Linked DNA regions of Homo sapiens. The protein of the gene in region 1 purifies or fractionates together with the protein of each later gene. This does not show direct contact. Each region holds a gene or a part of one and is shown on either strand. Other genes may lie near its edges.

Region 1 (4,121 bases):
TCGAAGTTTGGTCTCTCTGACCCCATTTGTGATGCCAATTGTAACAAGAAAAATCCAGAATCATATTTTTAAAAAAACCTTTCCCCCAAACTAGGAGGGAGCCAAGAGACCAAAGAATGACTCAGACAAGTCCAGCTTGGCCAGTGGATAAGTTTATTAGGACTTACATATGAGACACTCCTAGATAGCAGAGGACACCTTTAGAGACCTGCCCTGCTTTCCATCTCTAAGCTGCTTTTAAGCTAATTTTCTGGCTCTTTGCCTACTGTGTGTGCATGATGGGACTGTTTTCCTTGATAGGTTCTCAGGTATTCTCTGGGATGTTTGGGTACTCAAGGACACCTGCTCCTCAGCTGGACACCATGGCGTTGACTCACCACTTGGCCATCAAGGATACCTGCTTCTTGGCTGGGCACCGTGTCCTTGACTCACTACTTAGCCATTAAGGTTCAAGCAGTGGTCATACACCCTTAAGTATCCTGGTGGGGGACCTGCAACCCTACACCAGTGACAAGGCCTATTTCTCATTGTCCACGACATGTGACTTTGGGAAAACTACTTAGATTCTCTCTGCTTCAGTTCTGCCACCCACAGACCAGAAATAGATACCAGACCCAGCCCTATCTCTTCTTTCTAGGGTTGTTGTGACATTTGGAAAGAGATTATGGGTTTAAGAAACTTTAAAGGGTTAGAGTGATACAAAGTGTAGTGAATTTTACATCTCAGACTAACCTGATATAAAATCTCTACTGACAAGTCCGTAAAGATCTTAGCTCAGTGCCTAGGATTCAGTAAATGCTTAGAGGATATCAGCTATTAGTGTTACCGCTCATTTTCTTGTTAGACTATGCTCCCAATTATCCAAGGATGACTTTGGTAGTCTAATATTGGTCTAAGTCTTTAAGTATTAGAGGTACTGCCTTCTGAATTGTCACCAGGCCTAATGTCATCTAGACTGTAAACAATTCCCCAACTATCAAGATAACTGTTCTATGAATGCTTTTCATTTCCATATTTTCTTGGCTCAATGCTGTTGCTCAGGACAAAAAACACCAAGTTGGTGATGATGACTGAGTGATGAAACAGTGATCAGAGGGACATATGAAGCTAGTGTAACAAAGATGGGAGGGGCTGGGGAAAGTATAAGTAACTATTAGGAGGTTCAGAGCAAACCTCAGGACACTTACTCCCTGAGCTAAGGTAAAGAATATTGTCCCTCATAGCCCTGGTCTCAGAAACTCTGTGGGGAAGATAAGTCCTGAGCCTAGAGCTGCCATTTCCACAGACAACTGAACTACCTTCAAACAGATGTGTTTTTAGGGGCAGCAGATAGAAGGAGCTGAATCCAGGAGTTTCCTTCCCTGAAATGCCCCAACAGAGGCACAGTCCTCCACCTTCCCTGGAACAGAGGGCTTTCATCTGTCTCTCTGAAGCCATCTCCCTCCCCTGTTTATGCCCAGAGCTGCTTTCCAATCCCATGGAGTGCCTCCGTATCTAACCATAGCCACTGAGTCTACCAGGTGTTCCTGAGAAGACAACTAAGCCAACCGCTCCACACTCTGCTGATTTTCTTCTACATCTCACAGGGGGAAGAGCTGGATCACCATGAAATATGTCTTCTATTTGGGTGTCCTCGCTGGTATGTACTCAAGACCTTGTACTCTGTCCTGTAAGGCACAGTTTAATGGATGGGGTGAGACAGAGGCAGGATTGCGAAGGGTGCAGAAAAAGAGTCAAAAATAGTGTCATCAGCAGAATTAGGAGTCCTGCCTCTCAGACTCCATCCAAAGGCTCTCCGGATAGGCTGAGCCCACTTTTCTAGTGTTAAGCTATAGGGTGGGTTAAGGCACACATGTGCCTTGGAGAAGGCTTAACAGTGAGTGTCCTCCCACCGACACTAATGCAGAAAACAGAGAAGTAGAAACAAAAGATCAAGTACTAGGACCCTACCTTCTGTAGTCCTTGCCCCACATGGGGTTCTTCTGACAGCAGAATTTGCAGATGAGGCATTTCCCACCATTCTCTGACTGCCTAGGTTGTATCACACATTAGCTGTGTGAGATTAGCCAAGTTAATTAACTCTTCTGTGCTTCAATTTCTTCAAAATGGGGGTATGACTACCCATATTATAGAGCTATTGTGAAGATTAAATAAATCTATGTAAAGCACTTAGAACAATGCCTGCTATAGAGAGCTCAATGTCTCTTGCCCTTGTTTACAGTCTACCCTTTTCTCTTTGGGGTTTCTAACTGTGTGATCACACAGAAGGGTGTGGTGAGGTACAGACCCAGTCTTGGGGAAGGTTAACAGGAGTAGCAAGAGAAGCCAAGACAAGAAGAGGGCTTTATTTCTGATACTAGAATCAGCCTTCCTCCCCTTTATTCTCTAGGGTATGTTTTAAATAATTCATTTATAAAAACAATATATGTTCATATTACAAAATTTAGACATTTTTAAAGTAGAAAAATAAGCATCATTCATAATCCCACCTCTTAGTCAACACATGCTAACACTTTGAGTTTACTCTCAGAATCTATATATTTTTTGCATTTAAATGTTTTTATTTATTTGTTTTTAGACAAATAGATTATATCCACAATTTTCTTGTTCTTTTTAACTTAAATAAGCATTAATATTCTTTTGCTGTTTAATATTCTAATTAGTTTAATTTTTATTATATATGATGTTCCACTTTTTGATGTGCTTCAATGTCCAACATTACTATGTCAGATATTTATGTTTCCAGTGTTCAGCTGTTATAGCTAACATGAGCATACTTGTTTGTAATCCTTGTCTATATCTGATTTTTTTCTTTAGAATGGATTCTTGGGGTTGGAATGATTAGGTCACAGGTTATAAACAATTTATGATTCTTGATGCCTGTTTCTAAATTGCTTTTCAAGAAGATGGAATCAATTTACTAGCAGTGATGAGTGTCTCTCATTATACTCTCTTAGATTGAATATTATCAATATTAAACAAAATTATTATAAATATAAGATAAAATGGCATATCGTTTTAATTTACATTTTTATTAGAAAAACATGTCAAATACGTTAACACTTCTTGGCCAACTGATAACTGTTTAAGAATCATCCAGATTCCTTTTCAAGTAAGAGACTGTTACCTTATTTTTATAATATTTATGTATTAAGAATGTTCATTATTTTCTCAGGGACATTTTTCTTTGCTGACTCATCTGTTCAGAAAGAAGACCCTGCTCCCTATTTGGTGTACCTCAAGTCTCACTTCAACCCCTGTGTGGGCGTCCTCATCAAACCCAGCTGGGTGCTGGCCCCAGCTCACTGCTATTTACCGTTGAGTATTTGGGCATCCCCATCCCCAAAACAGCTACTGTTCATTCTAGATCAGTGGTTCTCATATAAGGGTAACTTCTCTACAGGGTACACTTGGCAATGTCTGAAGATATTTTTGGTTGTCACAACCAGGGGGCAGTGCTATTGGCATCTAATGGGGAGAGGCTAGAGCAAAGATGCTGTTTAACATCCTACAATTCACAGCACAGTCCCCACAATAAAGATTTGTCCAGCCCAGAACAGCAATAGTGCCACTGTTGAGGAACCCTGTGTTACATGTTATGCCTCCTCAGACTCTCATAAGTTTTTTTCTTTTTTTTTTTTTACTGGCAGTATGAATGCATTTTATCACTTAAAGATCTAGCAGGTAACTGATGATGCACTCAAATTGGGTCAATTGAGGTGAGTTTTAAGAAGGAACCAATTGCAAAGGTATGGAGACATTAAAGGGACAATATTAAGAATAGTTCCATACCACCAGGGTTTGTATTAAGAAAATGCAGTTACCACCTCTAGGCCTAAAAAGGCAAGAGGAGAAGATAATTTCAAAGGAGGCAAGGAGAGATAGAGAAAAAGCGAGACCTGTGTGAGGAGACAGCCTGATAAGGATTGTAACCCCTAGTCAAGGAGCACAGCCACTCTGTGACAAAACTGCAGGGAGGGACCTGGGAGGATAAGTACTCCAATCTCACTCTTCTTCCTCCAGTTACTTTCTGGTGCTTCCTATTGGCCAATAGAAGGAAGCCAGAGGACAAGAGAGCCCACTGATTAAATCCATATATGTCCCCTTCCAAAGGTGCAGAG
Region 2 (3,652 bases), on another chromosome or scaffold:
GCATAGTGGTTAAGAGTAGAGGTCAAGAATCAGATTGCCTGCTTTTGAATTATAGTTTCTGTTTACTACTAGCATTGTAGTAGTCTGATCTTGGACACATTGTCTAAATGTTGACACTGTACTTTAATTTCTTTGCTGTGAGGATTAAATGTATCAATAAGTTCAGAAAAGAGCTAACATAGGAGGCCTGAGACTGCTCTCCTTAGAAAGGCCTGCTTGGAAGGTTGGCCCCTGTCTGGCATCTAGGAACTTGGATTTCTGGAGTATTCCCACTATTCCTTAACTGATAAGAGTGGCCTATTGTGTGCCTGGAGCATTTGTGCATTGTGGTTTATGCCGAATACCAGCTTTCCTTCCAGGAGTATGGAATTTTGGTATGTGCGAAGTAGAGGGTGCTTATATAATCAGCACCCCCGCCTAAAAAACTTGGGTACTGATTCTCTAATGAGCAGAAACAACACTTCACATGTGTCGTCGCAATTTGATGGTGGAAGAATTATGTCCTCTGAGACTCCAACCGGACACTTGTGCCTAGTTTCTTCTGGACTTTGCCCTAAGCACCTTTTCCCTTTGCTGATTTTGCTGTGTATCCTTTTATGTAATAAATTATAGCCATGAGCGCAGCTGTATTCTGGGTCCTGCAATTCCTCCTACTGAACTTCGGTGTGATCTTGGGATCCCCCAACACTTGTGAACCCCAACACGAATACATATTAGGGATTACAGTGCCTCTTTCTTACCTAGGCAAGTGCTAATTGAGGGTTATTTGTAATGGTTGTTGTGATGGTGATGATGATACTAATGATGATGATAAGTAATAATAAGAAAAAATTAAGTTAACAAAAATAGTTGATGAATGTAGTGAGTTGAATAATGTTCCCCCAAATTTCGTGACCACCTAGAAAGAACTTCAGAATGTGATCTTATTGGAAAATAGACCTTATTTGCAGATGTAATTAGTAAGGATCTCCAGATGAAATCATGACTGCTGTCTTTATTAGAAGAGGAACAAGGACATAGGCACACAGAGAAGAAAACAATGTTAAGACAGAGGCAGAGATAGTAGTGAGGCAGCTACAAGCCAAAGGATGAAAGATTGCCAGGAGTCACCATAAGTTAGGAAGAGGCAAGGAAAAATTCTGCCAGAGTCTTCAGAGGGAATGTGTCTCTGCTGACACCTTGATTTTAGACTTATAGCTTCCAGAACTGTGGGAGAACAGGTTCCTGTTGTTTTAAGCCACACAGTTTGCAATAATTTATTCTGACAGTTCTAGGAGATGAATACAGTGAGTTTTGGGTAAACAGATACTAAAATAATCTAAAATAATCTGAACATTAAAATTGCTCTCCTAGTTACTGTTTAATTTCTTCCCTTTTCTGTCCTCCAAAATCTAAAAGATGGCAGTACAGGAAATGCAGAAGCAATCCTGACATTCCTATTCTTTACTCTGTCTTCTAATGCATTGCCAAATGTAGTCAGTTCTACTTCTGAATTATTTCTCCAACTTACTCACTTCTCAACTCTCTCCACCAAGCTACTGTCATCTCTTGCCTAAACTATTAAAATGGGCTTCTACCTGGACTCTTCTTACTCTATCTGACCCATTTTCTATAGGCAACCAGAATGATCTTTCTTAGATGTATGTCTGATTACATGACACACTTGCTTAAAATCTTTCAATGGTTTTTCTCTTCAGGTTAGTTAAAATCCCAAATCCACAACATGATTTATGAGACCCTACATGATCTAGCCCCTGTCTACCTCCAGTCTCATTTCATACCACTCTCTCCATCCCTCAGTATGCACCTGGTCTTTTAAAACTTTCCTTAATATGCTTTTCACTACTTCTGGACTATTGCATGAGCTAGTTTCTCTGTGCAAAATCTTGTTCCCCTACTCTTCCCTGCTAATATCAGAAAGAAAGGGAGGGAGAAGAAGTACATGTAGGAGGAGGAGCACAGGCTTTGTGTCCATCAGAGCAGTCAGATACCCAGCTTCCCTGCTCACTATCCTTGTAACCTTGGGCAAGTTACTTGATATTGAGTGTCAGTGTTCTGTAAGAATTCTTGGGCAAGTTACCTGGCATTAAGTGTCAGTGTTCTGTAAGTTATCTGTAAGAATTATGATGCCTACCTCATTGGATGACTGTGTTTTATATGAGTTAAAAGATACTATACAAGGATTAAGCGGAATAATATAAAATATTTAACAGTGCCTGGCACAGATTAAGCATTTACTCAATGGAAAGATTATTATTATGAAAATGGCTTAACCAGAATTGCAGTCTAACATTTATATAACCATCTTTTTTTTTTTTTTTTGAGACACAGTCTCGCTCTGTCACCCAGGCTGGAGTGCAATAGCGTGATCTTGGCTCGCTGCAACCTCCGCCTCCCGGGTTCCAGCGATTCTCCTGCCTCAGCCTCCTGAGTAGCTGGGATCATAGGCATGGGCCACTACGCCCAACTAATTTTTTGTATTTTCAGTAGAGATGGGGTTTCACCATGTTGGTCAGGCTGTTCTGGAACTCCTGACCTCATGATCTGCCCGCCTAGGCCTCCCAAAGTGTTGGGATTACAGGCGTGAGCCACTGCACCCGGCCATAACCATCATTTTTCTAAAGTGCTTTGCATTGCTAGTTACTTTATGGAGTTTCACAAATTTCTCTTTAAAATCTTTCTCCTTTTTAGAATGTAAGCTTAATCTAAAGTAAGATACAACTGTTTATAATAAAAGAAATCTAAGATTGAATGCCATATATTCCCTGTAACTTTTATTCTTCTATGTGACATGGTTAAAATATGACCTGACTTATATTCCGCAGCAGGATAATTATCCATGCAGAGCAAAGACCTTATCTCTTCTTCTCTGCTTTATTCCCATTTGCCAGCATAGTGCCAGTACATTGTAGGTTCATAATTAAATTTTTGATGAATGAAAAAGTTATTTTGAAGTACCTACAGTTTATTATTTGATAAACATTGATATTCTGTGTAACACAGGATCATATCACTTGTTCATTAGTATTTTGTATATATCTACAACTAATAGAGGATATCCTGTTTTTAACTGTTTAAAATTCTTTAAATATTAATATTTAGGAGTTCTTTCTTTGTCATGTGGAATTCTAAAATTAGTAGAGGAAAAAAACACTTAGATGTTGATGTTTGGGATGTCAAAGATGGTTTTCAGTGCAATACTTGCTTAAAGCATGTTTTCATTTACTCACACTCTCATCAGAGCTTAGGAAATTGAAATAAGCCACCAGGAGTATTTTTATGAGCGCTGTATGTACCCACACAGACATTTGGCTGACAAATAGGTCAAGGTTGCTGTTAATAGCATGTCTGAAGGTTATATGAATTATATAGCACATTACTTTTCAGTGTAAACTTAAAAATGGGTCTCAGAACAAAACATGGTCTCTCAAATATCAAATTTCATAAATAGGGGCATTCAGTCTTGTTGATAGATTGACTTTCAAAATCAAAATGCAAGTTATTATAATTCTTTATTACTGAAATTGGCCATTTTTGAACCTGCTTATATTTTCAGCCAGAATTACAGGTTTCTTTATTATTATAATACTTCCATCTGTCTTTTTTAGGCATCAGCGATGCTTCCTTCTTGTACCAGTTTAGGAACACTAAT
Region 3 (3,652 bases), on another chromosome or scaffold:
TTGTCACCCAGGCTAGAGTACAGTGGCTCGATCATAGCTCACTGCTGCCTTGAATTCCTGGGTTCAAGGGATCCTCCTGCCTCAGCCTCCCAAGTACCCGGGACTATAGGTGCACATCATGATGCCTGGCTAGTTAAAAAAATTTTTTTTGTAGTGATGGGGTCTCATCACCTTGCCCAGACCCATTTCAAGACTCCTAGGCTCAAGTGATCATTCCATGTTGGTCTCCCAAAGTGCTGAGATTACAGGTGTGAGCCACCGTGCCTGGCCCCATAACTTCATTTTTGTGTGAAGTTGCCCAGCCTAAAGGCTGGCCACTAAATGGACACTTAAAAACTCTCTAATAGTGTGGATTGGTGGGCAGTCTGATTCCTCTGGCTTAAACCAAAATGCAAACATGAAAGGAGGCATGGCCATAGACCCCCGGTGAGAATTCTTTACTGTGATGACACAGAAGCTGAAGAGGGATGAAAAAGCAGTTTGACCAGCAAGCTTGCTGGTTCCCTAGGCCACCCTTTCTTCTCTCCTTTTCAGTTCCTCCTTCCCTCTAACTTGGAGCTGCTAACTCCAGCCCATCTAACTGTTTCTGATTAAGAAAGCTTCAAGCCTTATAAGGCCCTCTGTTGCCTATGGTTTATGTTGGCTGGAGAGCAAGGTTGTTTTTTGCAAAGTCTGATTCAAAGAAGTGGCAAGGGCTTACGTAGGCTGTGTGTGTCCGCCTCCTGGGGCTGGACTGCCTTATTGGAACAGGTTCCTTTGAGGGAGCCTGAGAGTAAGGGGGGCTTATTATCCCTTACCCTTAGTGGTGGCTCTGTAAGGCTAATGTGTGGTGTGGCCACAGGGCTTCCTGGCAAGTGTATTCGCTGAGAACTTAAAGGTAAAAGCAAGCCCCTGTTTACCTACACAGTGTACCTGTCATGCTACCAGCCACAGAGGCATCCTGTTTCAGGAATCAAGTCTGGAAGCAGCTTCTGCTTATTAATTAAGAACTAAAGCCCCTTGGCTCTTCAGGCACATCGCTTTCCCCTCTGGAGAAAGTTTGGTGGACCGTGTCCCTTGGGGTTCTTGCGAGTCCGACTGGCCTTCCGCGCAGTGATGTTGGAGAGCCCTTTTTCTGAGAGCCATGCTCTGCCTCATCTTCACCTCCCCTCTTGCTACCTCTTGAGTCAGCCAAGCCTGTTCCTGCCTTAGGACTTTGGCACATGTTCTTCCTGCCTGGAACTTTCTCCCCGCTCTCCTCCTGCTTCCCCCCAGATCTTGGCACAGTTCTCAAGTGTTCCAGTTCTGATGCCACCTCTTCCAAGAGGCATTCCCGCCTCATTCTGTCTGCAGCTTCCCCTTCCAAGTGCTCCATCCAGCCTTTCTCATTTCAACCACAGCACACAGAAAAGGACTAGGTGACCGTTCCTCAACTCTCCCAGCTGGTGCCCTGCTACACGCACAGGGATATAGGTAATTCATCACATGCAAGGGCAGCCTTAGGGCTCAGTTCTCTCAATCAGTTGAGAGAGGCTGCAGGTCTTTATATTTAAGTCGCGGAATCTTTGCAGTATCTTACCTGTAATTTGACTCTCTACCCTTCCTTCCACCTTTGCTTCCTGAGGGATCTCTTTGCCTTATGTGCCCAGCGAACTTGGCTCACAGTGCGTGTTAAACTCTTTGTTAAATGACTGGCCCTGAGAGGTCCAGCCATCTGATGCTGGCTAGCCCTCAATGCCTTGCTTCCAGAGGGATCTAACCTGTCAATAAGCATGCTCTCTTTTTGATATTACTATTATGTCAGCTGGGCAGCTGGGGGTCTCTGAAGCAAAATTGGCATCAATTATTATAGGAAAATAAGGCCTTACAAGTTTGTACACAGATGAGTTGACATTAATGCAAATTTAGGATGGTTAATAAGAAACATAAAGCTGTGTGGTAATAGAGCATGCATTGCTACTTGTATGTATCTTAATAACGTGTTTTCTATCAAAACATTACTTGTAGAAAGGATTTGGCTTTTGACTGTGTACAAGGCTTGAAAGGACAGTCCTTTGCCCACTGCCCCCCACCCCCATTACTTTCAATTCTTCCAGCTGTCCCCACCATTGTCAGTAGTATTATTTTCTTTCTTTTTAAGGATTATTATCTGATTTGTTTTTCTGCTGTGGGAGATAGGATTTAGCTCGTTCCTATGCTTTTTTCTTCCCTCATCATCCCAGTGTAGAGATAGCCCAAGTTTTGGTCAAGTTGATCTTCAGAATATACATTATTATAATATGAACCTTGTTTATGGCTGCAAGGTTTTTAGTTTCCCATATTTCTTCTTTTCCTTCATTTTCTTCTTCTCCTCTCCTAGTTAATTTCCTTAGTTTCTTTTGCTTAATTTTCTGTCTCTCTCACCAGTTCCCTGACCACCTCGCAGCCTCCACCATTGCTGTGGAATGCCTGTCATTGGGGGAAAGTGGCTCTCACTGTGGCTCCACATACCAGGTACTCGCAACGGTTCCACGTTTCTCCTGGGCGCATCCCTTTTCCCTGGCTCTGCTTCCCCTTCAGCCTTGGAATTCCCTCTCCCCTTCTCTTGTCTCGTTTCTGGATCCAGTGCCCCTCCTTTCTTGGTTGATTTCCTTGTCTTGGGGGAGCCCATCGTTCAGTAGCTTGCTGAGAAGGTGTGCGTGGTTTGTGGCCCACAAGAAGCCAGCCGATCCATGCAGGGACAGGCACCTTTGAAGGCATGGATTGGGCCTTCAGTTGGGTGGCTGAAGTCAGCAGACAACTAGGCCTGTGGAGCCCTTCCGCCAGGCCAGGCCAGCAGAAGGTCTGGCTTCACTTTTTAGAGAAGTTATAAATGTGGCGATCTGGATTTGGGTACCAGGGAGTGGTGAAAATGGGTCCCCCCCAACTTTTTTTTTTTTTTTTTTTTTTTAAAGACAGGTCTCACTGTCCCCCAGGCTGGAGTGCAGTAATGCCATCATAGCTCACTGCAGCCTTGATTTCCTGGGCTCAAGTGATCCTCCCACCTCAGCCTGCTCAGTAGCTGGGACAAGAGGCATGTACTACTATGCCCGACTAATTCTTTTAAATTTTTTTTTGTAGAGATGAGGTCTCACCACATTGCCCAGGCTAGTCTCGAACTCCTGGGCTCAAGTAATCTTCCAACTTCCCAAAGTGTTGGGATTACAGGTGTGAGCCATCGTGCCTGGCTGAAGATGGGTCTTGAATGAAAGTCTATATATTGAATGGGGCATCCCAACTCTCCTTGGCTCCCATAATGCTGGCATTCAGGCTTATATTCTCTCATTCCTACCCCAAGATACTAGAACATTCTAGTCTGAGGACACTGGCACCCCATTTTCTGTTCCTCCTTCACCCCTAACAGGGCACTTCCATGTCCTATGGACAAAACTTTCAGTTGGTCAGTAGCAGAGAGTGGCAGTAACAGGCCCACTGGAGAAAAGGTCATTGCTTGTTTTTTGAGACAAGGTGTCACTCTGTTGCCCAGGTTGGAGTGCAGTGGTGCGATCTCGGCTCACTGCAACCTCTGCCTCCTGGGTTCAAGCAATTCTCCCACCTCAGCCTCTCGAGTAGTTGGGACTACAGGTGTGCGCCACTATGCCTGGGTAATTAAAAAAAAATTTTTTTTTTGTAGATACAAGGTCTCACTATATTG

What was found.
Region 2: the proteins of PRSS37 (region 1) and ARSK purify together in Homo sapiens (affinity purification with mass spectrometry; one large-scale study listed by BioGRID and IntAct). This does not show direct contact.
Region 3: the proteins of PRSS37 (region 1) and AKAP1 purify together in Homo sapiens (affinity purification with mass spectrometry; 2 studies listed by BioGRID and IntAct, with this or other methods). This does not show direct contact.

Annotation. Positions count from the first base shown.
Region 1 is NC_000007.14:141,838,534-141,842,654, reverse strand, and holds the start of PRSS37 (probable inactive serine protease 37 isoform 1 precursor), read left to right. Parts: upstream 1-1,169; 5' UTR 1,170-1,605; coding exon 1,606-1,639; intron 1,640-2,305; exon of another isoform or gene 2,306-2,390; intron 2,391-3,175; coding exon 3,176-3,317; intron 3,318-3,650; exon of another isoform or gene 3,651-3,719; intron 3,720-4,121. UniProt on the Homo sapiens protein: Plays a role in male fertility. May have a role in sperm migration or binding to zona-intact eggs. Involved in the activation of the proacrosin/acrosin system.
Region 2 is NC_000005.10:95,568,478-95,572,129, forward strand, and holds part of ARSK (arylsulfatase K precursor), read left to right. Parts: intron 1-3,652. UniProt on the Homo sapiens protein: Catalyzes the hydrolysis of pseudosubstrates such as p-nitrocatechol sulfate and p-nitrophenyl sulfate. Catalyzes the hydrolysis of the 2-sulfate groups of the 2-O-sulfo-D-glucuronate residues of chondroitin sulfate, heparin and heparitin sulfate.
Region 3 is NC_000017.11:57,091,723-57,095,374, forward strand, and holds part of AKAP1 (A-kinase anchor protein 1, mitochondrial precursor), read left to right. Parts: intron 1-3,652.